Homo sapiens: one gene and its partners. The protein of the gene in region 4 purifies or fractionates together with the protein of the main gene of each other region. This does not show direct contact. Each region holds a gene or a part of one and is shown on either strand. Other genes may lie near its edges.

Region 1 (3,500 bases), on a different chromosome or scaffold from region 4:
TCAGCGTTCCCTTAAATCAAGGCCAACACCTTCCATGCCACCAGCTGTTTCCAAGTATCAAATTAATTACATTAATCCTCACAACCAACTTATGACCTAAGTACGGTCATTATCTCCATTTCAAATAACCGAGGGCCAGAAAGGTTAAGTAACTTGTTCAAGGTCACACAGCTACTAGCGGCAAAGCTGATACACGAACACAGGCCGACTGGCTCTGGAGCCAGCTCTGCCCACAATGGCACTGCCTGTGTGTCCTGTGCACAGCAGGGAGAAGCACTCCTTGCACTGCCTTCCTCAGTGGGGTGCTGTCAGGGAGCAGGCCGGATTTATGACCTCTCAGTGTAGCTGCACCTCACTCGGGAAGAGAATGAGGCAGCCGCCAGCATTTGTCCTGATTTGTGCCTGCACCACACAGTCAGCCTTCCAGGGCTGGCCCATGAGTCCCCTCCCTTGGCTCACCCGTGTAGCCATCACGACAGAGGCAGGTGTAGCCGCCCTCGCGGCTGCGGCAGCGCCCGTGGGGGCCACAGGGCCGCGAGTAGCAGAGGTCCACCTCGGTCTCGCAGTAGTCACCCGTGAAGCCGGGCGGGCAGCGGCAGCGCAGCCCTCCGACGGGGTGGATGGGCCGGAAGAGCACGGAGGAGGAGGCGATGAAGGGCGCGGAGGAGTCGAAGCGCAGCACCGACACGCAGCGCATGTAGTTCTCGCAGGGCTCCCGCAGGCAGATGTTGTCGTCGAAGGGCAGCACGCGCTGTGCCGAGATGGCCGTCAGCAGGCTGCGGTTGAGGTATAGGCGCTCCTGCAGGTCCTCAGAGGGCAGGAAGGGCGGCCCGCCCCCGGGCCCTGGCGGCTGGCCCACCGACAGGCTCACGTTGAGGATGTGGCCCCCGGGGGCGTCGGTGTCCCGCTGTACGTTGAAGACCACCACGTGGTCCGGTGGCGTGGCCAGCGTGGCGGCCACCGCCTGGATGAAGAGGCCTAGCAGTGGTGACAGGAAGCGCTCGGGTGACATGTCCTCCAGGCGCAGCGTGATGCTGTGGGTGAGCATCTCATCGGTGATGATGGTCACACGCAGCGCGCACTGGGCGGTCACGCTGTGTACGCCGTCTGTGGAGAGGGACACAGTCAGGACCCAGCCTGGGGCTGCAATTCAGCCTGCATATTCCTGCACCACCCACCAAGAAAGGCTCTCCTTTCCAACTGGCATAAGGGTGCTGAGCCAGGTATGTCACGTGTGGGCCAATCACTCCTTCAGGGCTCAGGGGATGAGATTTGCAGTTCTCTTTGCATCCTTTCCCAAAACCTTCTGTCGCTGATGCACGGCACACCTCTTAATGTTTGTGCACCTTTCCCTGCCCAAGCCACCGCTCCTGCTCCCTTCCCCCAGAGTCTGTGCTGCCTGCGCGGGAACCCTATGTTGTCTTTTTCATACTTTTCTACAGGGCCCAGAGCATCCTGAGACCCACAAAAATCATCCCCCTGCCCCCTCAGCCTCTACACCTCAACACCACGATAATCGCAACCATGGCTGTGTTCCCCACTCCCCCACAGCAGCAGGGAGTTGGCGGGGGTGGGGGGGAGTGGGTAAACTGGGTCAGTGGGCCACCTAGTCCCCCTCCCACTGAGCCCCATGGCTGCTTGGGCGCGCAGACCTGCTATCCCCATGGCAACATCCAACACAAAGCATTCTTCCCGCCCAACTCTCTGGGCTGCTGTGGGTAGCCTGGGGGGCCCCACCCCAGGAAATCCAGCTGAGCCACGTTAACCAGTGACATCATCACCCACTGCCCCATGCTGGAGACAGGGTGAGTCGGGGTGGGGGACCGGAAGGCAGAGATAGAAGGGCCTGGGCAGCTCTCCACTCTGAGACCCCAGAGCCCCACTGAGTCAGTCTCTTCTCTGGTCCTAGGGCCTCTAGCTACTCATCACCCACTTGGCTCAACCATTACACCCAAATGCCTGCTATGCCCCCAGGCAACACACTCACTTATAAACAGCTAAGCACTAAAACACACTTGCTGGTGTCTCATTCCACCCACACACCCTAAGCCCAGAAATACCATACACACCTGAATGCACATACACATGGGAATGAATTTTATTTAGCTAAAAAATGAAAGCTGGGGCCTGGAGAAGGAGGAAATGGCTTTACAGGGCAAGAAGGGATAGTCTTTTTTTTTTTTTTTTTAAGAGACAGACTCTCTGTCGCCTACACTGGAGAGCAGTGGCACGATCATAGCTCACTGTAGCCTCGAACTCCTGGGCTCAAGCGATCCTCCCACCTCAACCTCCCAAATAGCTGAGACCACAGGTGCTCACAACTATGCCTGGCTAATTTTTGTTTGTGTGTAGAGATGGGGTCTTGCTGTGTTGTCCAGGCTGGTCTCAAATTCCTGGCCTCAAGTGATCCTCCATCTCAGCCTTCTAGAGCACTGGGATTACAGGCATGAGCTACTGGCATATTCATATTTGTATTTATTACAATGCCTTACACATAGTAGGTGTTCAGAAAACACTGAGATGTGGATGACAATCTATTCAGTCTCCACAAAGAATAAACGGACTTTAAAACATAGCAGGGGGCCGGGCGCAGTGGCTCACGCCTGTAGTCCCAGAACTTTGGGAGGCTGAGGCGGGTGGATCACGAGGTCAGGAGTTCGAGATCAGACTGACCAACATGGTGAAACCCCGTCTCTACTAAAAATACAAAAATTAGTTGGGCGTGGTGGTGGGTGCCTGTAATCTCAGCTACTCAGGAGGTCCCAGATACTCAGGAGGCTGAGGCAGGAGAATTGCTTGAACCCAGGAGGCAGAGGTTGCAGTGAGCCGAGATCGCGCCATTGTACTCCAGCCTGGGTGACAGAGTGAGACTCTGTCCCAAACAAACAAACAAAACCACATAGCAGGGGGAGCCCAACTAGATATAAAAAGCAAATGCTTACCCTAGCAGTAACGGGGCAGGAGCCCATGTTTCTGGGGTGGGGTGGGAGTAGGCAAGGGACATGGGAACAAATTCTGCATCTGTGTTGTACCTACTTGCGGTGGCTGACTGTACCAGCGGTGGCTCAGCTGAAGCCGGGAAGGCTGAAAGCAGACCCCCATCTCAGCCATGTCCTCAGCCGACTGCCCACCTACCCTCCAGCCTCATCACTTGCTTATTCTCACTAGCTCTCACCAGCAAGCCTGCTTGTCATCACCCACTTCTGTTCCTCCTGCTCTCGTCTCAAAGCTGCTGCACAGGCTGTTCCTTCCCACCCAGACACCAGCCCACAGTCCTCTGAGTCTTCTAACCTGCCCTAGCTCACCTGCTCCAGGAAGCCTGCCCAGATTTATGTCATCAGGCTCTACTTTCCTCTCCGTTTCAGACTTCCCCGCACCAGGATGCTCAGCTGGCACAGAGCTCTTGTATACCTGGTATATCTGCCTAATGATTCCTTGACGGGATATTCCCTCCAGGCAGAAAGCAGCCCAAGACTCCACACACAGTGCCCATAACTGAT
Region 2 (3,500 bases), on a different chromosome or scaffold from region 4:
GCTTTTTAAGATTCAGCTCAGCAATCCAAAAATAATTTATAATTCCAATTAGAGATCTTAAAGATAGGTCTCCAGAGGTTTTACTTCTTACCGAAAAATATTGTCAAAGGTAATTCCTTCTTAGATTCAGATCTTCTTGTGGATTCAGATACAAATGTCTATGGACATTACCATGTTGTCATGGTAATTATGAGCTTTGTACCTCTCAAAATGACTACAATCTGGAGTTAGAAAATTTTGTATACCTCATATATGTTATGAGAAATGAACTATTGTTACCACATGTTATGGCAGATCATTCAAAGCTATCTGTTGTATTATCACAGTTTAAAAAATATCCTGATACCACACATACTAAGTACATGTATACATAGATATTTACAACCATACATATACATATATTTATATATATACACACAGTGCACATACAATCACACTCATGCTTGTGGCATTTTAACTAGTATTTTTAAAACCTACCTACCTACTCAAATGGACATAAAATACACATACTTACAGAAACATACTTACTAGGTATATGCCATATACACAGAGACACATGCATAGAAAATGTGTTTGTACACAGAAAACATCAACATTTATCACATACTGGTATTAGGTCCCATTTCATATTTGAGAATTATGGCTACAGTCTATACTAAAAAGTCACAAAATTAATCTATGTGACCACTTTTTAAGTCTAAGTCGAGAAGGCTTACAGTTACATCACAGGAACTGGTTTCATTAATATACTTTAGAATAAAGTGAGTTTGTATTGGAACAAATAGGAAATTTGCTAATAAACAGACCCTACTGCTCGTCTATGTTATAAAACACGGCTAAAAGCAATATTCAGACGAGTAACCTTGGTAGATGTTTTTTAGAAATGCAATATACTTTTTCTAAATCAATACTATTTCAATAAGCTGTCCATAATTGAGTAAATGGTTATTCCAATTAGTCAATATGCATGCAATATTTAGCATGTGACAATAAAACTATATTTACCTATCAAATAAACATTTACAGTTTATTTTCCCAAATCCTAAAAACACTGATTTTTTAAATTATGCTAGACATGATAGAGCTACATCTATTGTGTTTACAATATCAGAGCAATCAGTTAAGAGAAAATTACACAAAAGATTAGAAATGGTATGGGAAACAGAAAATCATTAAGCTACATTCCCATCTTAAGGCCTGGTGTGCATGCTGCACGTCAAACTATGCACATACTAGAGTTTCAGACTTCATTCAACATTGGCATCTCCTTTTAGCAGAATACAAACCCTTTGGGAAATGAGATTCATACTAATAATATGACATAGTACTGCAGCAAATTAAAAATATTCTCCAATGTCACTGCTGAAATTCTAGAGTAGGCTGGGTTCTATGAGAAATAACTTAGGAGTAAAGAACAAAAATGTACCCACAAAGGTAGACAATTGGGGCAGTGCAACTGTGGGACTATAATCTAAAAGCAAGTGCCAAAGATGACAAATGCCATTGTTTATTACTGCCTAAGATCAGTGGAAGGAAAATTGGAAAAAAATCTCCAATTTTTTTTGACATGGTTTGTGCTGATCTAAGAACACACCAGTGGTTATTCACAATATTTTCCTTTAACAGAAGGAAAATTTTGAAATACAGCAAAACACAAAACCACATTTAGCACAAAGCCAAACCCTGAAGTATATAATCCGTTAGCTGCCTATTTTAGAGAATTCAAAGGAAGAAGCAAAGGGAATCCTAAAAACAAGAAGTTTTATAAAAAGATCTCACTGAAGATTATTTGTTTTACTATGGATGTTTGCTTAACAGTTTTCCATTTAGCTGAGACACTATTTTAAAAATGCAGTATGTATCTTGCACATTGGTTCCATTCACAAAGAGTTAACTTTTTTTCCCCCAGTTTGGGGTTTGGGGTGAGATACGAGAGGATTTAGGATTGTGATGTTTTTATACAATCACTGGTAACCTTAAAAGTTGAAATGACCTTTATGTAAATCTTGTATTTTCTGATTTTTACCAATTATAAATGGGTTAGCATAAGCCTTTAGAATAAGTTCAATACAATGGCACTCAACATGGCAAGTTCTCTGTTTAATAATGGTTAAAAGTTTTTACTTTATACTTTATGAGTATCTGCTCTGGGTGTAAACTACACAGGAAATTAAAGTTAAGTTAACATACAAATCATGTTTGCTACTTTCAAAGGGAGACATTTCAGTTGGTGAAACCTGATTTACTTCTGTAGAATATGAAATAGTGTCATGGGACACCCCTACTCAGTGAATACTTGCTCTGCTGTCTGGGAACAGTTAGCACACAAAATTCCAGTTGGCTTCTGGCTGTTTCCTACATGTGAATCATCTGGTCCTTGGTAGTCCAAAACTTAGCCTCAAGACTTAACTATTAACCCCCAGGCTAAACTGTTCTGGTAAATTTTAGAAATCTTAAGAAATTGCAAATTTGCTTTAGATTTCAACGTTTCAATACCCTTTTCTGGAGTGACCTGGATAGGGACTTTGAAATACTGCAACTGTAAAAGTGTGAGCTCTGCTCTTATCCCATGCCATTTCTACTGACTTCATTTCAGGAACCATTCTTTAAATGTGATTATCCCATAGCCTCAAGATTTATTAAGAAAGCCTAGAATGGATATACAGTTACACTGAGCCTGTTTCAAGGGTAGGATAAATTCTTACAAAACAAGATTACAAATTAGCACGTAAAGAGTGAATTTTTTTTCCAACCAAAATAATAATAGTAAAACTGGAGTTAGTATCAAAGTGTAGTTAGCTATGCCAAATAGAAAAGTAAACATTCTCCATGTCAGCCTTCAATATAACCTACCATGAGGTGAATATAAGTAAAGAAAGAAATTATATTTTTCCCAACACTTCTAGAGATGTGATATTTTGCTTCTTCCTTGAACTCTGAAACTAATTAGCCAAATTTATTGACTGATTAACAAAAAAAGAAGCTTTTATTCACTGTTGCATATGCTTCTAGCATGAAGCAAAACACATTGGAATGAGGAGAAGCTCTTTAGAGCAAACAGTGCAGACTTTTCCTTTGCAAACTACCTCGTGCTTCTGGAAAAGTTTATTCTTAAGGAGTCCTAATTTTAAAAAATCACTTCCTAGCAGTCTTATGAAATAAAAAGGAAGAAAAGAGGAGCTAAATAGGCAATTATGGAGTAGGTAGTAGCATTAATGGTAGACAACAGAATTACTGTCATCCTAAACAGAATGTGGGAAAAGAAATATGTATGGCTTAGGTCTAAGCCCACTATCTCATATCTGAAGAATTACGTTTAATGAGCTACCTGGTAGATAGCCTAGAAAACTTGTCCAAAGCAATTTCAAATATATGCCATGGTAGGCAAATGATCCCCAAAGTATAGGGCTGCTATACAAACCTACCTTGGTCAGTACAACATATAAAGCCTCTAAAAGGTTAGCAGTTTCTGAGTCAAACCCCAAAGGTTTGACATACCA
Region 3 (3,500 bases), on a different chromosome or scaffold from region 4:
AGCAGCCTATGCCAAGATGCCCGTCAAACTTTCTCTGGAGACTGGGTTTCCAAAGGGTTCCCTGCTAAGATACAGGCTGCAAGCAAAACTACAGCACTGAATTTTTTTTAAGCAGAAGGATGTTGTCAGTTTTTAAAAATAACAGAAACAAAAATTCACCAACTCAGCAAGTAATTTAAAAGAACATGTAGACATTGTCAAATTGAAATCAGGATAAACTGCAATGTAGGTAACAACTCTCCAGATAATATAAATGACAAACATCACAGAATTGGTTTCAGCTTACTGCTTAGTTCCCTGAAGCAACAGTAGCATAATTAATAAAAAAAAATTAGCTCAGTCTTAAGATCTTAAGGAATTTCACATATATATTATTTTACATAACCTATAATAAATGTCACTTATCAGTATTTTTCTCTTACAGAAGACAAAGTAGAAGGAAGATGGAAAAACCACATAGCAAGAAGCCAGATCTCCTCTATCAAGATGAGGTAAGCAATGAGTTTAACCTAGCTAGGTCTTCTGACCTGCATTCCTTCATGAAAGCTTTCTCATTTTCTAGTGTGCAACTGCTTTATAACTTTCCCCAAAAAAAATCCTTTTCTATAAATAAATACGAAACATGTTTTATTCTTTTGTTTAAGGCAAAAATCCTCCTCCTGGAAAATTTTTATATGGATAAAATGGCAAAAAAACTTCATGCACAAGGCTATGTACCAGAAAGAACATGGCTTTGAAGTCAGACCAGAGAGTGAATCCCAAGCTCTACATGCAATTTACACAAATTCACCTTAGTCTTAGTAACTTCAATGGCAAAATTGGACTAATACTTATCTCACAGGTTCAACAGAATTAAATATAAAAGGTCTAACACACTGCCCAGCATGGAGCAACTACTATTTTGGTTCCAAAACTCAAAACTCATTTTTTTCATGAAGCATCAAAAAACATCAATTCCAAAACTTTCAAGAAAGACTATTACCTACAAGATTTCACTAACCAATTTGATACAAATAGTATAACTTGCTGAAAGACAGTACAGCTGAATGTAACCATTCAGGGGCTTTGGAAACAGGACTGGTGTGAGCAATCAATGGGAGAATGTCTCCATAGGACTGACTGGTACAGTGCCTAGACAGTCAACACTCACTATTAATAACATAACACTAACAGCTTATTTATGTTTCAGATAAGTAATTCTGCAAATGCTCAAGGACTAAATACACCAGCCTAGATATCTAAATATTTCTATGAATATTAAGAAGCTAGTATTAAAGTCACCATTCAATAAGTCTTATTTTGGTAACAATGCTTAGGAGAAAAAAAAACAACTTCCTCACAAAAAACATCTATTTTGTACATTAAAAGAACAGTACGTTCAAAAACAGGCAATACCAGAGATCAATGTCAATATTTCAAGTCAAATATAATCAGTTTTCAACTTATTAATAATTCTCTCTGGAATAAAAATGCGGACATACTGGAGAGCAGTTTAAGATTAGAGTTGCTATTTATAAATTTTGAATTATTTTCTAAAAATACAAAAGTAGAAGATCACTTAAAATGCAGCCCATGTAGAAATCCTTTATGAAGGGAGGCCAGGAGGAGTCAAGCAATGTCTCTGGAAGAAACTACAGCTTGAGGAACCCTCTCTCTCTAAAGGCTACATTCGTGGAAATGTTCAGGGCTTAGTCAAACAGTGATCTCCAAATAGTATCTCTATTATTTCAGGCTTAAATAATCCTGTTAAAGATCACAAAGCCTATGCAACAGAAAATGCAAAAGTTATGCTAAGAACTAATGCATTACTGAGGTTAAGTCTGGGGTCTTTATTTATAACAAAATTTGAACAGATTTTTTTTTCTATTTTAATAATTAGAAACGTAATTAATTTTTGGACACAGGAGTCATTACAGTAATCAAAAATGGTAATTGCTTAAAATAATTTTTCTTCAAATGGAAAACAAAACCCAGATAGAGTTAAGAAACACCTCTCCAGCCTACTTACTTAGAATAGCTAGACCTGCTTCTTTGGCTTCAACATAATGGATCCTTATAGATCAGGTTCCGCCTTCAACTCTTAATTTTAAATTTTTTTCCAATATCCTCATGCAACATTCCTTATACAAAACAAGAACTAAAAGCATAGGTATAAGGCATGTAAGAAACTTTAACCACTTCCTTCTGAATCTTGCTAATCATGTGCAATATGCCTTTTGAGAGTACCTTTTGTTTTAAGGAAATTAAAAAAAAAAAATAGGCAGCAGCGATGAAGACCATTAACACAACCACAAGTTAGCCCTTACCCTTAAAGGATTAAGATCAAGACAGAACCTATGGGAAACAGCTCATTTGCATAAAATTGTAGAAAGTAAGAGAGAAATCAAGTTAAATGAGGGATATGCTCAAGTATTTAGGGGTGAAATACACAGATGTCCACAACTTAATTTGAAATTCATCAGAAAAAAATGGATTAACGGATTAGGGTACAGACAGATAGGTGATCAAGATTCACTCTTCCATATGTTTGAAATTTGTCATAATAGAATATTTTTAAAGGGACGAGGAAATATGAAAGGGATCAACATTTTTAATCCTCTTAAAAGTGACTGACAAAAATAAAAATCTCTATTAAAAAAAAAAAGTCTACATCCTTTGAGGCCAGTGATAAAGACTCCAACCTTTAAATAATAAAAAAGGGAGATAAAATTTAAATCAGGTTGAAACAATAAGACTTTGCTAATTTTACTTTAAAGTAAGAAGTTAAAATAGACAGCAAATACTAACATTGAACTTTTTTTTTTTTTTTTTTTTTTGGAGATGGAGTCTCACTCTTTCACCCAGCCTGGAGTGCCGTGGCGTGATCTCGGCTCACTGCAACCTCCACCTCCCAGGTTCAAGCGATTCTCCTGCCTCAGCCTCCTGAGTAGCTGAGATTATAGGCACGCGCCACCGCACCCGGCTAATTTTTGTATTTTTAGTAGAGACGGGGTTTCACCATGTTGGTCAGGCTGGTCTCGAACCCTGACCTTGTGATCTACCCGCTTCGGCCTCCCAGAGTGCTGGGATTACAGGTGTGAGCCACCATGCCTGGCCCAGTTTTTTTTTTTTTTTTTTTTTTTTTTTAAGAAAAAAAATCTTCTATCACTCTCTTTTCCTCTACCTAACATCCTAAACAGACAAGCAGAAAATACTGTGAGATGCCTAACGGGGAAAGAGGAAAAAAATTTCTATATAAGTGTTAACATCTGAGTTAACCTGGGACAGAGTTAAATTTTTATTTTTTAATTTAAGAAACGATAAAAACGGAAGATTCTGGAATATATACAATATATAACCTTCTTTAGAAATAATTTTTAGTCCATCATACCCACCCTACAACTTCCCATTAAGCATCCAAAAAAGACTTGTTTCAATTGAATCCACCATTTACTGAGCAGCTCCTCTACAACAAGCCTATGGCATATGCTGCAGGGATCATCACTCACACATAGCATGCC
Region 4 (3,500 bases):
CAAGCTTTACCTAACACTATTTTATTACTGTCCAGGACTACCTTTAGTCTCACCTAATTGAAAAAAAACAATAACCATGTAAGCCATTTTACAACAGTCACTGGTTTTTGATTATGTCAGCAGCTTTGAGCTGCTGAGAACTTTATGGATCCTATGCACTTAAACACTCATTCAGATTGTTTCCTGAACTAGCTCTGTCAGAACATATTTTACACTGAGCAATATTTTATACTGAGCAATGGATAGTCTTAAATTGAATAAAACAAGAATGTATACCAGCCACACACACATTCCCATCTCCCCCACCAACCCTTTTTTTTTTTTTTTACGAGATAAGAGTCTCACCCTGTCACCCAGGCTGGAGTGCAATGGCGCGACCTCAGCTCACTATAACCTCCGCCTCCCGGGTTCAATCGATTCTCCTGCCTCAGCCTCCTGAGTAGTTGGGTAGTTGGGATTACAGGCACCTGCCACCACGCCCAGCTAATTTTTGTATTTTTAATAGAGACAGGGTTTCACCATGTTGGCCAGGCTGGTCTTGAACTCCTGACCTTGTGATCCACCCACCTCAGCCTCCCAAAGTGCTGGGATTACAGGCGTGAGCCACTGTGCCTGGCCTTTTTTTTTTTTTTTTTTAACTTTTAAGTTCAGGAGTACTTGTGCAGGTCTGTTACATAGGTAAATTTGTGTCATGGAGATTTGTTGTACAGATTATTTCATCACCTAGGCATTAAGCCTAGTACCTACTAGTTATTTTTTCTAATTCTCTCTCTCCTCCCACTCATCACCCTCTGATAAGCCCCAGTGTATGCTGTTCCCCTCTATATGTTCATGTCACACACCTTCCTTTTAAGAAACATCTAAACTTAGTGACACACCTGTTACATTAATTGAATAGAGTAGTATGCATTAACATATAAAAGAAGGAAAGGAACCCTGCTGTAAATTATTGGTGCTATGTAAGTCACAGCTATCCTGACAGACTCTGATCAGTTGAGAGTAGACCAGGAATTCAATGGGATGCAAATCATCAGACTATCTAACTAAATGAAAGATTCCCTGAGAAAGTGGATTGGATAAATAGGCAGGGCCTGAGGGCAATACATGTTTCCTTATCCTCTCCTACTGAATTGAAGAGAACGGCAGGAAAGAGTTTTCCCAGTGAATTCCTTTGAGTTTATTACTGCTTTATTACTTTTGAGTCAGATTCATAGTTCATTAATTTTTACTTTTTTCTTGCATTTGGGATTATAAATTTCCCAGTAAGTAGTATTTGAGTTTCATCCTATACATTATTTACCTGTGATGTTTTTGCTTACATTCAGTTCTAAATATTTCTACCTTCTATTTTAATTTTTTCATTAACCTGGACATATTTGGACGGGCGCAGTGGCTCATGCCTGTGATCCCAGCACTTTGGGAGGCCAAGGCGGTTGGATCGCGAGGTCAGGAGATCGAGACCATCCTGGCTAACACGATGAAACCCCATCTCTACTAAAAATACAAAACGTTAGCCAGGCGTACTGGTGGGCGCCTGTAGTCCCAGCTACACGGGAGGCTGAGGCAGGAGAATGGCGGGAACCCGGGAGGCGGAGCTTGCTGTGAGCCACGATGGCACCACTGCACCCCAGCCTGGGCAACAGAGCAAGACTCCGTTAAAAAAAAAAAAAAAAAAAAAAAAACCTAGACATATTTGAATTGTATTAATTTTGTTAGCATTTTGCTATCGATTTATAATTTATTGTATTATGGTTGGAAAACACCGTGTGTAATATGATTTCTTTAGCATTTGTTGAAACTTCCTTTGTGGATTTATTTTTGTAATGTGTTGTAACATGTATTTTGTAAATGTTCCATGTGTTCTTACAAAGAACACACATTCTCTAATTATTGAGTATGTGGTTCAAAATATGTTCTTTAAACTTATTTGTATTGATCAAATCTTCTCTATCTTTACTAATAGAAAATCTTATTGGATTGATGGATTTGTCAATAATACCATGTGGTTTTGTCCATTTTTGCTACAATATATCTGAGGCTATATTGATAGGTACATACAAATTCAGATTTCCTTTAATCTTTCTATTAAATAGTTGATTTTATCATGTACATAATGGTCCCCTTTACCCTGATAATGTTTTATTACCTTAAATTTTTTTTTAAATTAGTGCTTGCCTTTACTCTGAAATTCCTCCCCCCACCCCATGTTTTAAGCAGGTTTCTGGTAAAATAACTATACACACACACACACTATCCACATTTATTCTAATTACTTATATGATTGGGTTTATTCCCGTCAGCTTTACTCTTTCTACTTGCTGTCAAGAATTGTGAAGGGTCTGAGATTTTATCCTACGTGCAAGCCTGTTATAGTTTCATGGATGCTGGACGAAGACACAAGACTCCTTGGTCAGAGACAAATGACTTTATCACTCACAACAATAGCAGTTGCCAGAGTATCATCATTTGCACCAATTCCCAGAACCCAGTTTTCACAGGACATCATGAAGAGAGCCACGTGACATCTGCACATACCCTGAGCTGTGTTACAGGAGAGAAATCCTGATCTTAGGAAATCCAATTATTTTATACTGGGCAGTAAGCCTGCCTGACCTTTGCCAGAGGAAAACATTATTTTTATTACACCAGACAGTAAACAAACCTAGTCTTTGCTCTGAAGAGGGACATAATCTCTATATTTCAAGGCTGTTATCTATACAAGCACCCTTGAAAATATACTTTGGAACAAATAGAGTCAGTGGTTTTGCTCAAAAGATGTGCAAAAAAACATGAGAGACCCAAGAGGAATTGTACACCCAATACTTAACTATACTATTTTTCCTTTGATGCATTTATTTCCTGACTGTTTTAATTAATTGGATTTTCTATGGTCCCCTTTTCCTTTAGTATTTTGGATGACATACATTATGTCTGTAACATTTTAATTGTTACTCAAAGTATTTAACATGTATAACTAAAACACTAAGTCAACAATCCCTACAATGATCTCTACCTTCCTTTATAATACAGAATCTTAGTACTTTTAACTCTAATCATACATATCTAACAGTCTTACAAGTTATGGTACATATTATCCTCATTCAAATTTCTTCTTTTATAATTCTCAAATTGGGCATTCTAATAATTATTTTGTAATACATCTAATATATTTGCCATTTTCCCCTCACACCATTATTTCTTGCATCCTACTTCTTCCTTCCAGGTTTAATTTCTTCCTTTTTTAAGTATATCATTCAGATGTTCATTCAAGAGGCGAAATAACTAAATTACCTGAATTTTTCTCTAAACTTGCCATTATTTTATTCTTGGTCTTGAATGAAAGTTTTGCAAGCCTTAGAATTCTAGATTGTTAGTCAGTTCTATTGGAAGTTTAAAGATAATGTTCCACTGTGTTACACTGTTGAGGCTATCTGTTGCTGTGCATGAGAATTTAATGTCAATCTAGTAATTGCTCTTTGGAGATAATTATCTGTTGTCTT
Region 5 (3,500 bases), on a different chromosome or scaffold from region 4:
ACAGCCATGGAGTGTCCCTGGCAGGCAGATGGTGTGAACGCAAAGCCCAGAGCACACACCTGTCTGGAACCGCCCCAGGTGTCCGGCCGTCACGGTGAATCTGTAGCCCCACTCGGTGTTGCTCATGTCGGAGGTGAAGCGGTAATACAGAGTGTCTCCTAGGCACACAAGGATCAGAGGCCCATCAGGAACTGAAGCAACAGGGAATGGCAGCAGTGGTGTTGGGTTTCAACATTCTCCAGTAAGTTCCCTTCTCAATATTAAGTTTAAACACTGCCTGTGAAGAACCTATCTAATCGAGTATTTGTTTCACTACCTGGAAGTTCAAAATCTTTCCACTTCTGCTGAGACCCGCTGAAGCTGTGTCGGTCTTGCTGGAAGTCACTGCTGCTGGACATGGCTAACTCGTCACAGCCCTCCTCTGTGTTGCACTGAGAGTCGAATTTGATTGAGAGGTAGATGGCACCAGGAATGTGAACTTTATCCTAGGGAGGGGAAATGGAGAACACATCTGTCGATGCTGCTCACTAGACACTGACTGCAGCTGTCCCATGCCGAGTCCTGTGGCTGGACCCGGGTGTGTGAGAATGAGTGAACCACAGCCCTGGCCTCCAGGAGTGCAGAGTCCAGCTAGGGCGAGGAGCATGCACAGACTGCAAATATGGTGCGAGGGAGGCACAGCGGGGCAGGCAACACGGGGCCCCAGAGAAAGAGTGTCAGGCTGCTGTGAAGAGTGAAGAGGACAGGAGGACCCTGTTAGGAGAAGGCGGGAGTGGGAGACAAGGTGGACCTGAGTGCATGGGGTGCATTTCAGACAGGGTAACAGCCCTGTGAAGGTCTAGCATGTTCAGGGAATGGCAAGGAGCTTGGCGTGTTTGGAGTAAAGGGTGTGCTACATGGGCACGTATGCTTGGGAAGCAGGAACAGGGACAAGACCTGACTCCAGAGAGACTGGCAGGGGCAGACACTGAAGGCCCTGGGCATGAAAATGAGGCACTCAGACTCTGGACAACAGGGAAAACCCTGGAAAGCTTTGGTGAGGCTTGCACAGTGTAGCATCACTGACAGCTGGTGTGGAGCAAGGCTGGGCTGAGGCAAAAGTGAGGAAATCAGAAAGTAGCAGCAAAAGGAACCCCAGAGAAGGGCAACGGGTGTCCAGGGTCAGTGGAGAAGACAAGACCTCTTTGGGATCGAACCTGGTGGCTGACCACATGTGCCTGTATGGGACCAAGGGAGTGGGGCTGGAGCCCAGGAACATGACAAGAGAAGAGACTTGGAAGAAAGACAGGTTATACTTCTGAAAAACAAAATCTCAGCTGGCCAATAACCCAGTTCTAAATCGGTTTTCATCATCCACCTTCGCTGCTGCAGGTGCCTTCCACTCAGAAGTAGATGCCTGGGCAACTCCAACATTTCAGTTTTCTCTCCAACATTTTTAAAAGCGCTAATGGGGGCCAGGTGAGGTGGCTCACGCCTGTAATCCCAGCACTCTGGGAGGCCAAGGCGGGTGGATCACCTGAGGTCAGGAGTTAGAGACCAGCCTGGCCAATATGGTGAAACCCCGTCTCTACTAAAAATACAAAAATTAGCTGGGCATGGTGGCAGGTGCCTTTATTCCTGCTACTAGGGAGGCTGAGGCATGAGAATCACTTGAATTCGGGAGGTGGAGGTTGCAGTGAGCCGAGATCACACCACTGCACTGCAGCCTGGGCGACAGAGTGAGACTCCGTCTCAAAAAAAAGTGCTAAAGGGACTACATGGCCTTAAGTCAATGAGAATAACGGAGGCTGCCCCATTCCTGCCTCATCAAAATGCCTACCTCCCTGCCCAGGCACAAAGTTAAGGATGGAAAAGATGAGACTCTGATTCAGTTCTGGGAAATTTTAAAAAGGGGCTGTAGTATCCACGGTGGGGGCAGGTCATGAGGTGGCAGCTGAAGAGTGAGGGTCCAACCTGGACCACATTCAGACTCACTGTCTCACTGTGAAGCCAAGGACTCACTCTGAGGAGCCTGCCGCAGGGAAAGTAAAGCTCTCCTCCAGGGCTAGGTGGCCCATTTTCTTCTATTAAAACAAGAAAAGTCCGGAGAAGAGAAGACTTGCTTGTACAGAATCCCTGGCCTCAGGGAGGCAGACTGCAGTTTGTTCAAGGAAGCACTTTCCTGGACAGGTCTCTGCTGTCCAGCGGGAGAGAGCCACAGAGGGGCTGAGCATGGAGGGGCTGAGCACGGAGGGGCTGACGAGGTCTCTGCGGCTCAGTCGCTCTTATGGGGCCTGCCGGCCCCAGGCTTACCTCGAAGTTGGTGTTGTTGTTATACGGGTGTTTCGACTCCCTCACTTGCACCTCCATTCCTGGCTCCTCCATGAACTGGCATGCAGCCAGGGCCATGGTCCCCAGCATGTCCTCTCGGCAGCCCTGGAGCACTTTCTGCAGGATCTGGTGGGAAGCAGACAGATAAGGTCAGGGCCTGCAAGTGGCATCAGGAAGAAGGGACAGTTTACTTCAACCCAAGCTCCACCCAAAGGTGCTGGCATCATCTTAGACCTAGGACGAGCCTCTGTGACTCCACCACCCAAAACCAACTCCACCAGCCACCTCTCACTTGACCAGGCTCTTGGTGTCAATCAGGACACTGCAGTCCTTTCAGAATGATGCTACTTAGAGGTGGTCTGAAAGAACTAACTGAACCAATCATAAAGGGTCCTGGTCCTTGAAGGAGTCCCCAGCCAAGCAGGTGGATTGGCCTATGGATAAATAATGACCACACAATGTAATCGATGCCTGGAGTGAGGTGCAGGGTTGGGAGCTCTAGGTGGCAAGAACTGTGGGAGGACACGCCTATGCAAGGGCCTAGTAGAGGCAGGGTGGCTCCCTCTGTCCCTTCCGAAAGATAGATATGCTAGAGCAAGCCTGCCAGCACCTGCAGGGCTGCAAGGCCGGGAAAAGACCTCGAGGTCTGGTGGTGTTCTCAGATGGACAAAGCAAGGCTGAGAGGCCAAATGAACTTCCTCATGGACTGCGTGTGTGTGTGTGAAGGTGGGTGAGGGACAGGATCAAAAAGGAGCTACCGAATGTGCCTCAAGATTTCTGCACTTGGAAACTGGGAAGATGGCGACAAAGCTTTCTGGTTCAGCTGGAAATCGCGCTCAGGGCCCCTGAGTTCCTCACTAGCCCAATCCTTGGGAGAGGATACAGTGACCCTACCTTTGCTGCATTCACACCTGTCAGGGAGCTGCACAGCCACACAGGTAGCCTCGCTCCAGGAAGCACTCACTGGAGGAAGCCTGTGGGGCAGAGGAAGAACCTGGTGGGTGAGCACAAGCTCAGTCTGCATAACTACCTTCTCCCACTCATGCTTTTCTTCCAGCTGCATGAACATATCCAAAATGTAGGTCATATGGGCAGGGCCACTGAGCTCCAGGATGTCCTCGCTCACTGGCACGTGGCTAGGCCACTCGGCGAGCAGGGATGCAAGCACGTGGCGGGCGTACAGGACAGCT
Region 6 (3,500 bases), on a different chromosome or scaffold from region 4:
TCCTTCACATTCCCTCGGTACACTTCCTGCGCGAAGACTGGTGCATTGTCATTTATATCTGTCACTCTGACAGAGACCAAGGCCGTGGAGGAAAGAGAGAATGCCTCTCCAAGGTCAGAGGCCACCACAGAGAAGGTGAATGTGGGGTCTGTCTCGTGATCTAGGTCCTTCAAGGTACTGATCCAGCCCGTGTTGCTGTCAATATTGAATGCTTCCATTACCTTTTCGGGCTGGGAATCCGAGTGGAGGGAGTAAGTGACTTGTCCATTGGCTCCCCAGTCCATATCAATAGCTCTCACTTGTGTGAGTTTGGTGCCAACAGGCATCCCTTCCATTATAATGGTGTCATAGCTTGAAGTTTCAAAGACTGGCTTGTTGTCATTCAAATCCAATACCTTGATATCTACATCCACAGTAAACACAATGTCTACTTTGTCCAGGGGTATAGTGGCTGCTACTTTAAAGTGGAAAGCTGGGCTGGTTTCACGGTCAAGGCGTTTGTCAAGCTTAATAGTGCCTGTTTCCTGTTCTATGACGAATATGCCCCCTTTGTTATTTTCTGGCCGTTCCCCATTAACTGTGCTGAACCAGACATTCTGACTGGGCAAAATCCTCAGGGTGTCCACTGTACTCCCAATGGCTGTATCTTCTGCAATGGTAAAGGAATACTGAGACTGGGTGAATGATGGCAAGAACGTTTCAGGGGGCAAGACGTGGATATAGACAGGAATGAGGGAGTGCTTTACTGGGATGCCCCCATCTACTGCTTTGACAAAGAACGAAAGCACTGTATTTTTCAGCTGGTTAAAATTACCCTTTGTGACCATCCAGCCATTGTCAGGATCGATTTCCAGGAGGTCGGCCACTGAAACAGAGGCCTCGCTATAGAGGGAATAAGTAATCCTTGAATTTGCTCCATCATCGGGATCTATGGCTTGAACTTGAGTGACCAAGTGGCCCCTTCCAACATCTGCCCTGACACTGGCTCTATATTCCACTGTCATGAACTGGGGAGCATTGTCATTTTCATCCACAACAATCACTCTCACAGTGCAGAAAGTTGTTCTCCCTCCACCATCAAGGGCCCTCACAAAAATACTAACATCCCCTTCTAGAGGGTTTTCCCGGTCTAGCCTTTCTGTGGTGATGACCTGCCCATTGCTGTCTATGAGGAATCGATCCTTGGCAAAGTCATTGATGATGGCATAGCTGATCTGCCCATAAGTCCCTGGATCACCATCTGTGGCTCGAACATGAATTACCTTTGTTCCTGCAGCCACGTTCTCTCTCACCTCAGCTACGTATGTGCTTTGTGAAAAGGCAGGGCTGTACAAGTTAGCCCCAAGTACCCTAATATGCACCTGTGCAGTGCTGGTGAACAACCCATCAGAGACAGACACATTGAGACTGTACAGAGGCTCCATCCGCTGCTTCCGATGGTTGGACAATGTGATAACTCCACTCTTGCTGTCCATCAGAAAGCTCGTCCGGTCATTCCCAGATAAAATGCTATATTCCAACCGGTCAAAATCAGAGCTGTCTGCATCAGAGGCTTGTACACAGGTTACAAAATGGCCCCGGGGGGCTAATTCACTCACATATGACTCATAAATGAGCTGATTAAAAACTGGAGGGTTGTCATTTACATCAGAGATGTAGATATGAACGAGAACCTCACTGCTCAGTGATGGGAAGCCACTATCTATTGATCTGACTTTCAAAGTGCAGTGTTGTACTAACTCATGGTCCAGCATTCGTGCTGTCAGGATTAAGCCACTTGAGCTATCTATGTGAAAATAATCTGTGCTATTGTAGGTATCCTGGACAATCTGATAATGTACCATTTTATTGTTTTCTGAGTCTGCATCAATAGAGACAACTTGTAAAACAGGTGTCCCAATAAGAGATGCTTCTGATAGTGTTGTATTGTATGTAGGCTGATCGAAAATAGGGGGGTTGTCATTTACATCATTAACTAGCAAGTCAACAGTGACTTCAGCCCTAGCACCAGTAAGGGCGTCGCTGGCTCTTATTGTCAGCTTGTAAGCAGATGTAACTTCATAATCCAAAGGGCTAACAACTTTCAGGACCCCAGTGTCAAAGTCAATGTTAAACTGTTTAAAAGGGTCCCCATCGATAATGATATATATGATGCCTTGGCCTTCTGGACTGGTGGCATTGATGCTTAGGATGGGTGTGTTCATTCTGATGTCTTCATTGACAGATGCTGTATAAAAGGGCTTATCAAACACAGGCATTGCTTTGTTGACAATAGTGATGGGAAGCTCCACAGATGTAGACAAAGAAGGTTTTCCGCCATCCTTGGCTAGGATGGTGACTCCATACTCAATGTTGGACAAGTCAGAGTTGAATGCTTCCTTTAAAATAACATTCCCTGAATTAGGGTTAATTTCAAAGTGGCCATAGTCATCCTGCAGGACATAGGTCACTTCTCCATTTGGACCTTTATCTTTGTCAATGGCTGTCACCTGATAAATCAGAGTCCCGGGTTCCGCATCCACTTGAACAGCAGCATAGTATGGGAGGCCCACAAAGACTGGAGAATTGTCATTTATGTCTTCAATGTTAACCCTGACCACCACTCTGGCCACACGCAGATGGTCCAGCTCACGGCTGGCTTCTACCACCAGCTCATATAACTCTTGTTCTTCACGGTCAAAGGGGACTCCAGTCGTCTGAATGACCCCTGAGGTAGATTTTATCTTGAACTTATTTCCTGGGTTTAAGATGCTGTATTTTAAGGGCTCATTAAGGCGATTTCCAACTGCATTGACAATAGCAACTTTGGTTATGTTAGTGTTGTTCTCTGAGATTGAGGTGGAATAGAAGCTTTGTGTAAAGTGGAGGCCGCTGTCCATGGCTTCTTTAACCATGATGGTGACCATGGAGGTACTGTAGAACTTTCCATCAGACACCTTAACTATCAGCATGTAGTGATCCTTGGAGAGGTTGTTGTTTTTTATGGTAAGTACTCCACTGTTTGAGTCAATTAAAAAATGATCCAAACTGCCTTCCATTAGGCTGTATGTCAGTTCAGGGGGTACCTCAGAGTCAGGATCTGTGGCACTAACTTTCAGAACCTCCACTCCAACATAGGTAGGTAGAAGTAAGATAGTCTCAAACACAGCCTGAGTAAAAACAGGTGGGTTATCATTCACATCTGTCACCTCAATGTTGACTTCAACGGGACTCTCTGCAGTCAGTTGGGGGCTACCACTGTCTCTCACATGCACATGAAAATGGAAATGGGCAATGGTTTCATGGTCCAGGTTGGCAATTGTTCTGATTGCACCTGTACTGGAGTCCACCGTGAAAAACTTTTTTGCTGTTGACTCCACAATCTGATACACAAGCAGAGCATTCCGGTTGCTGTCAGCATCTGTGGCTCGAATCACCAGTGGGCTGTTATCCAAGCTCCTGACAATGCTATTAATTGGGGCAGCCTCACTTAGGCTGCCTGAGTATTGAGAAAAGAGAAA
Region 7 (3,147 bases), on a different chromosome or scaffold from region 4:
ATAAAGACTGAGTCATTTCCTTAAAACAGTGTTCTTTAACCTCCTCTTCTTCACATACAGCATATCTAATTCTTTATCACAACAGGTTTTATGGAGGTACACAGAATGTAGGATACTGATAATAGTTATGTCTTTATTTTCTTTGGAAAATGAAATGAGTTAATATTTATCAAAAAAAGTCAGTCAGATAGTAAATATCGTATTCCTGTGAGCTGTTATTATTATCATTGATGTACAAGACTAAAAATTAGGTAAGTATTCTCACAGGACAACAGGTAACTTTGACATTATGTTTCTTTCAATATTGTAGTGTATACTTTATCAAAAAAAGAATATAAGAATATTACCGATGAAGATAATAAGAATAAGAAAACGATTTTGAGCGTTTCATATAACAAATAGGACCAGGCGTGGTGGCTCTTGCATGTAACTCAGCACTTTGGGAGGCTGAGGCAGGAGAATTCCTTGAGGCCTGGAGTTTGGGACCATCCTGGACGATATAGCAAGACCCTGTCTCTAAAGAACAAAGCACAACAAGTCTAAAATAACTCAGAAATAGCTGAAAGCTAATTTTTATATAATATAAACTTATCGGTTAAAATGCTTTAAAGTCCTTATGCAAAATGTTTTTTTTTCCTAAATTTCTTCTAGGTAATTGATCTGGGTGGTGAGCCAATTAAAAGCAGTGACTACTTTGGTAATGGCCGGGTGACAGAATTCAAGTATGGTGCAAAACTCGGCACAGTTATTCGCAAGTGGAATGGAGAGAAGATGTCTTACTTAAAGTAAATAAATACAACTTTTCCCCTGAACTATTTCATAGATCTGTTAGTCATACTACCCCAGTGCGAGTTATCTTCTGGAACATTCTTATTCAGACAACTATTAAGGAGTCAGTTGTTAATGATAAGTATTCTAGTGCCCTAAACTCTAATCAATCATCTTTTGTATTTAGAGTGTCTGTCACAAGACAGTATGCCTAGGAACGCTAAACTTACCCTAGGAGTTTCTGTCTGCGTACAAGATGAATATACTGGATTTGACTGATGTTTGCATATAATCTTTTAAAGCCAGGTTATTATTAAAATGATCCTATCATTTATAAAGTATGTACAAAGTGTCCATGCTATTGTATTTACTTATACGAATTGGAAATGTAAAATGATTTATATTATAACAATACAATATTAAAGCCTTATTTTAATCTAGTTTGACATTCTGTATAATGTGATGTGGATATTGATCCTTCTGGAGTGCCTCTAAATGATAATGTGCTGAAACCTCTGAAAGGAAATTTTTTAATAACAAACATTTTATATTTGTAATATGAATATAAGTATTCCATACATGTATATACAAATATGGACTATATATATGTAGATTACACACGTGTGTTTGTTTATGAGGTGTGTGTGTATATATATGTGAGTGTGTGTTTGTGTGTGTGTGTGTATATATATATATCTTACAGAGTAACCATCTAATTAGAGAAAGAATTTAATCTTCAGATGCCATGCCTTACAGAAAGAGATGCACAGTAGAGTTACTCTCAAACTATTGTGAAATGATACATCAACGTATATCTTATGTTTCAAAAATAGGAACTGGGGAGAAGGTTGGGGTTTCATGCCTTCTGACAGAGCGCTTGTCTTTGTGGATAACCATGACAATCAACGAGGACATGGCGCTGGAGGAGCCTCTATACTTACCTTCTGGGATGCTAGGTAGAAAACCAAGTTCTCTATTTTTTAACACCTCTTTTAATGATGGTATGAATATTGTGATATTCTATGATAATATAATTATGTAACTTTCAGGCTGTACAAAATGGCAGTTGGATTTATGCTTGCTCATCCTTATGGATTTACACGAGTAATGTCAAGCTACCGTTGGCCAAGATATTTTGAAAATGGAAAAGTAAGTTTTGGAGTTGTTCAAAATATCCTTTTCTCAAGAAAAAAGAGGCAATCTTCTCCTAATTTAATATGACAACTATTAAGTGTTTATTTATTCAACAAATATTTAATTATTGTAAACCTGATACAGGGTTGTGATTTAGTAATGCAGGTTATATTAAAGGAATAAACTTTATATTCTCCATTGAAAAAGAATAGCAAGCTTTTTCAGAGATATGACAAACATCCCCCTAGCCCGCAGGGAAAATAAAAATAAAAATTAAAAAAACCACTTAAAAATAAGAGCTAGGCACAGGGATTAAAATATATACTTCGTACCTTCCTCAGGTTTAATTGGAAGAATATAGATGCCAACCCTTGTAGAGAACTTAAAACATCATCTGCCCGTAGTGAGAACAATATAAATGTCTTTTAAATACTGTTAAAAAGTTATATGGTATAGAAACAAATGATCCAGTTCAGCTGAGTTAAATAGGGAAAGTATACTATAAGAGGAAGGAAATTGTATGTACTAAAGGATAGAAATTTATAGAGAGTATTCCAAGAAAGGTAAGAATGAGAAAAATATTTGGGAGTATGGTAAAGACATCACTCTGCTGAGTAGTTTCAAAAAGGAACAGAGAAATAAGAGTGTAAAGATATTTGGAAAGCTAGTAGAAGGTTTTCTTTTAAACTAAAGGGTTGAGAAACAGCATCAGAGACTTCAGAACTAAAGCAGAAATTCCTCCTTCCTATGAGTCACACAGATATCTAGCTAGCTTTTTTTAGATTCCTTTCAGTTTGAGAAGTCCGCTACTATGTATAACAACTGATTCTATTGTTAAACAGCTTTAATATTTAGAAGGTGTACTTTTATATTGAGACAACTTCTTATAATTTCTACTAATTGGTCTTATTTCTGTTGTTAGGAGTCAGAGAGTTCTTTTATTTTTTCTATTACTATAACATTCCCACTTTGACAGGACTGCTGCATGCTATAAACTCTTAAGTTTTGTTCACTTTTCACCATATGACGTGATTTTAAGGTGAACACTGATAAACTTCCTAGGGTTACTCTGTGTTTTTTAATGAAGATTTCTTAAAGTGCCAATCAGAAAAGCATAATACTAAAAATATGGTCAATTTATAAAAAAAAATGTTCAGATGTAGTATTTTGTACATTTATCTAAAAAGAAGCATGACGGCCTCCAATATTTATTTAGCATATGTCATGTTCAAGGCATTTTCACAT

The links.
Region 1: the proteins of ZBBX (region 4) and CELSR2 purify together in Homo sapiens (affinity purification with mass spectrometry; 2 studies listed by BioGRID and IntAct, with this or other methods). This does not show direct contact.
Region 2: the proteins of ZBBX (region 4) and DNM3 purify together in Homo sapiens (affinity purification with mass spectrometry; 2 studies listed by BioGRID and IntAct, with this or other methods). This does not show direct contact.
Region 3: the proteins of ZBBX (region 4) and URI1 purify together in Homo sapiens (affinity purification with mass spectrometry; 2 studies listed by BioGRID and IntAct, with this or other methods). This does not show direct contact.
Region 5: the proteins of ZBBX (region 4) and ZZEF1 purify together in Homo sapiens (affinity purification with mass spectrometry; 2 studies listed by BioGRID and IntAct, with this or other methods). This does not show direct contact.
Region 6: the proteins of ZBBX (region 4) and FAT3 purify together in Homo sapiens (affinity purification with mass spectrometry; 2 studies listed by BioGRID and IntAct, with this or other methods). This does not show direct contact.
Region 7: the proteins of ZBBX (region 4) and AMY1C purify together in Homo sapiens (affinity purification with mass spectrometry, with the first as the bait; 2 studies listed by BioGRID). This does not show direct contact.

The regions. Positions count from the first base shown.
Region 1 is NC_000001.11:109,256,039-109,259,538, reverse strand, and holds part of CELSR2 (cadherin EGF LAG seven-pass G-type receptor 2 precursor), read right to left. Parts: intron 1,108-3,500; coding exon 460-1,107; intron 1-459. UniProt on the Homo sapiens protein: Receptor that may have an important role in cell/cell signaling during nervous system formation.
Region 2 is NC_000001.11:172,407,998-172,411,497, reverse strand, and holds part of DNM3 (dynamin-3), read right to left. Parts: 3' UTR 1-3,500. UniProt on the Homo sapiens protein: Microtubule-associated force-producing protein involved in producing microtubule bundles and able to bind and hydrolyze GTP. Most probably involved in vesicular trafficking processes, in particular endocytosis.
Region 3 is NC_000019.10:29,980,239-29,983,738, reverse strand, and holds part of URI1 (unconventional prefoldin RPB5 interactor 1), read right to left. Parts: exon of another isoform or gene 3,489-3,500; intron 1-3,488. UniProt on the Homo sapiens protein: Involved in gene transcription regulation. Acts as a transcriptional repressor in concert with the corepressor UXT to regulate androgen receptor (AR) transcription.
Region 4 is NC_000003.12:167,300,298-167,303,797, forward strand, and holds part of ZBBX (zinc finger B-box domain-containing protein 1), read right to left. Parts: intron 1-3,500.
Region 5 is NC_000017.11:4,014,031-4,017,530, forward strand, and holds part of ZZEF1 (zinc finger ZZ-type and EF-hand domain-containing protein 1), read right to left. Parts: coding exon 3,341-3,500; intron 2,745-3,340; exon of another isoform or gene 2,603-2,744; intron 2,437-2,602; coding exon 2,293-2,436; intron 486-2,292; coding exon 317-485; intron 159-316; coding exon 60-158; intron 1-59. UniProt on the Homo sapiens protein: Histone H3 reader which may act as a transcriptional coactivator for KLF6 and KLF9 transcription factors.
Region 6 is NC_000011.10:92,798,318-92,801,817, reverse strand, and holds part of FAT3 (protocadherin Fat 3 isoform 1 precursor), read right to left. Parts: coding exon 1-3,500.
Region 7 is NC_000001.11:103,752,898-103,756,044, forward strand, and holds part of AMY1C (alpha-amylase 1C precursor), read left to right. Parts: intron 1-651; coding exon 652-785; intron 786-1,601; coding exon 1,602-1,724; intron 1,725-1,817; coding exon 1,818-1,917; intron 1,918-3,147. UniProt on the Homo sapiens protein: Calcium-binding enzyme that initiates starch digestion in the oral cavity.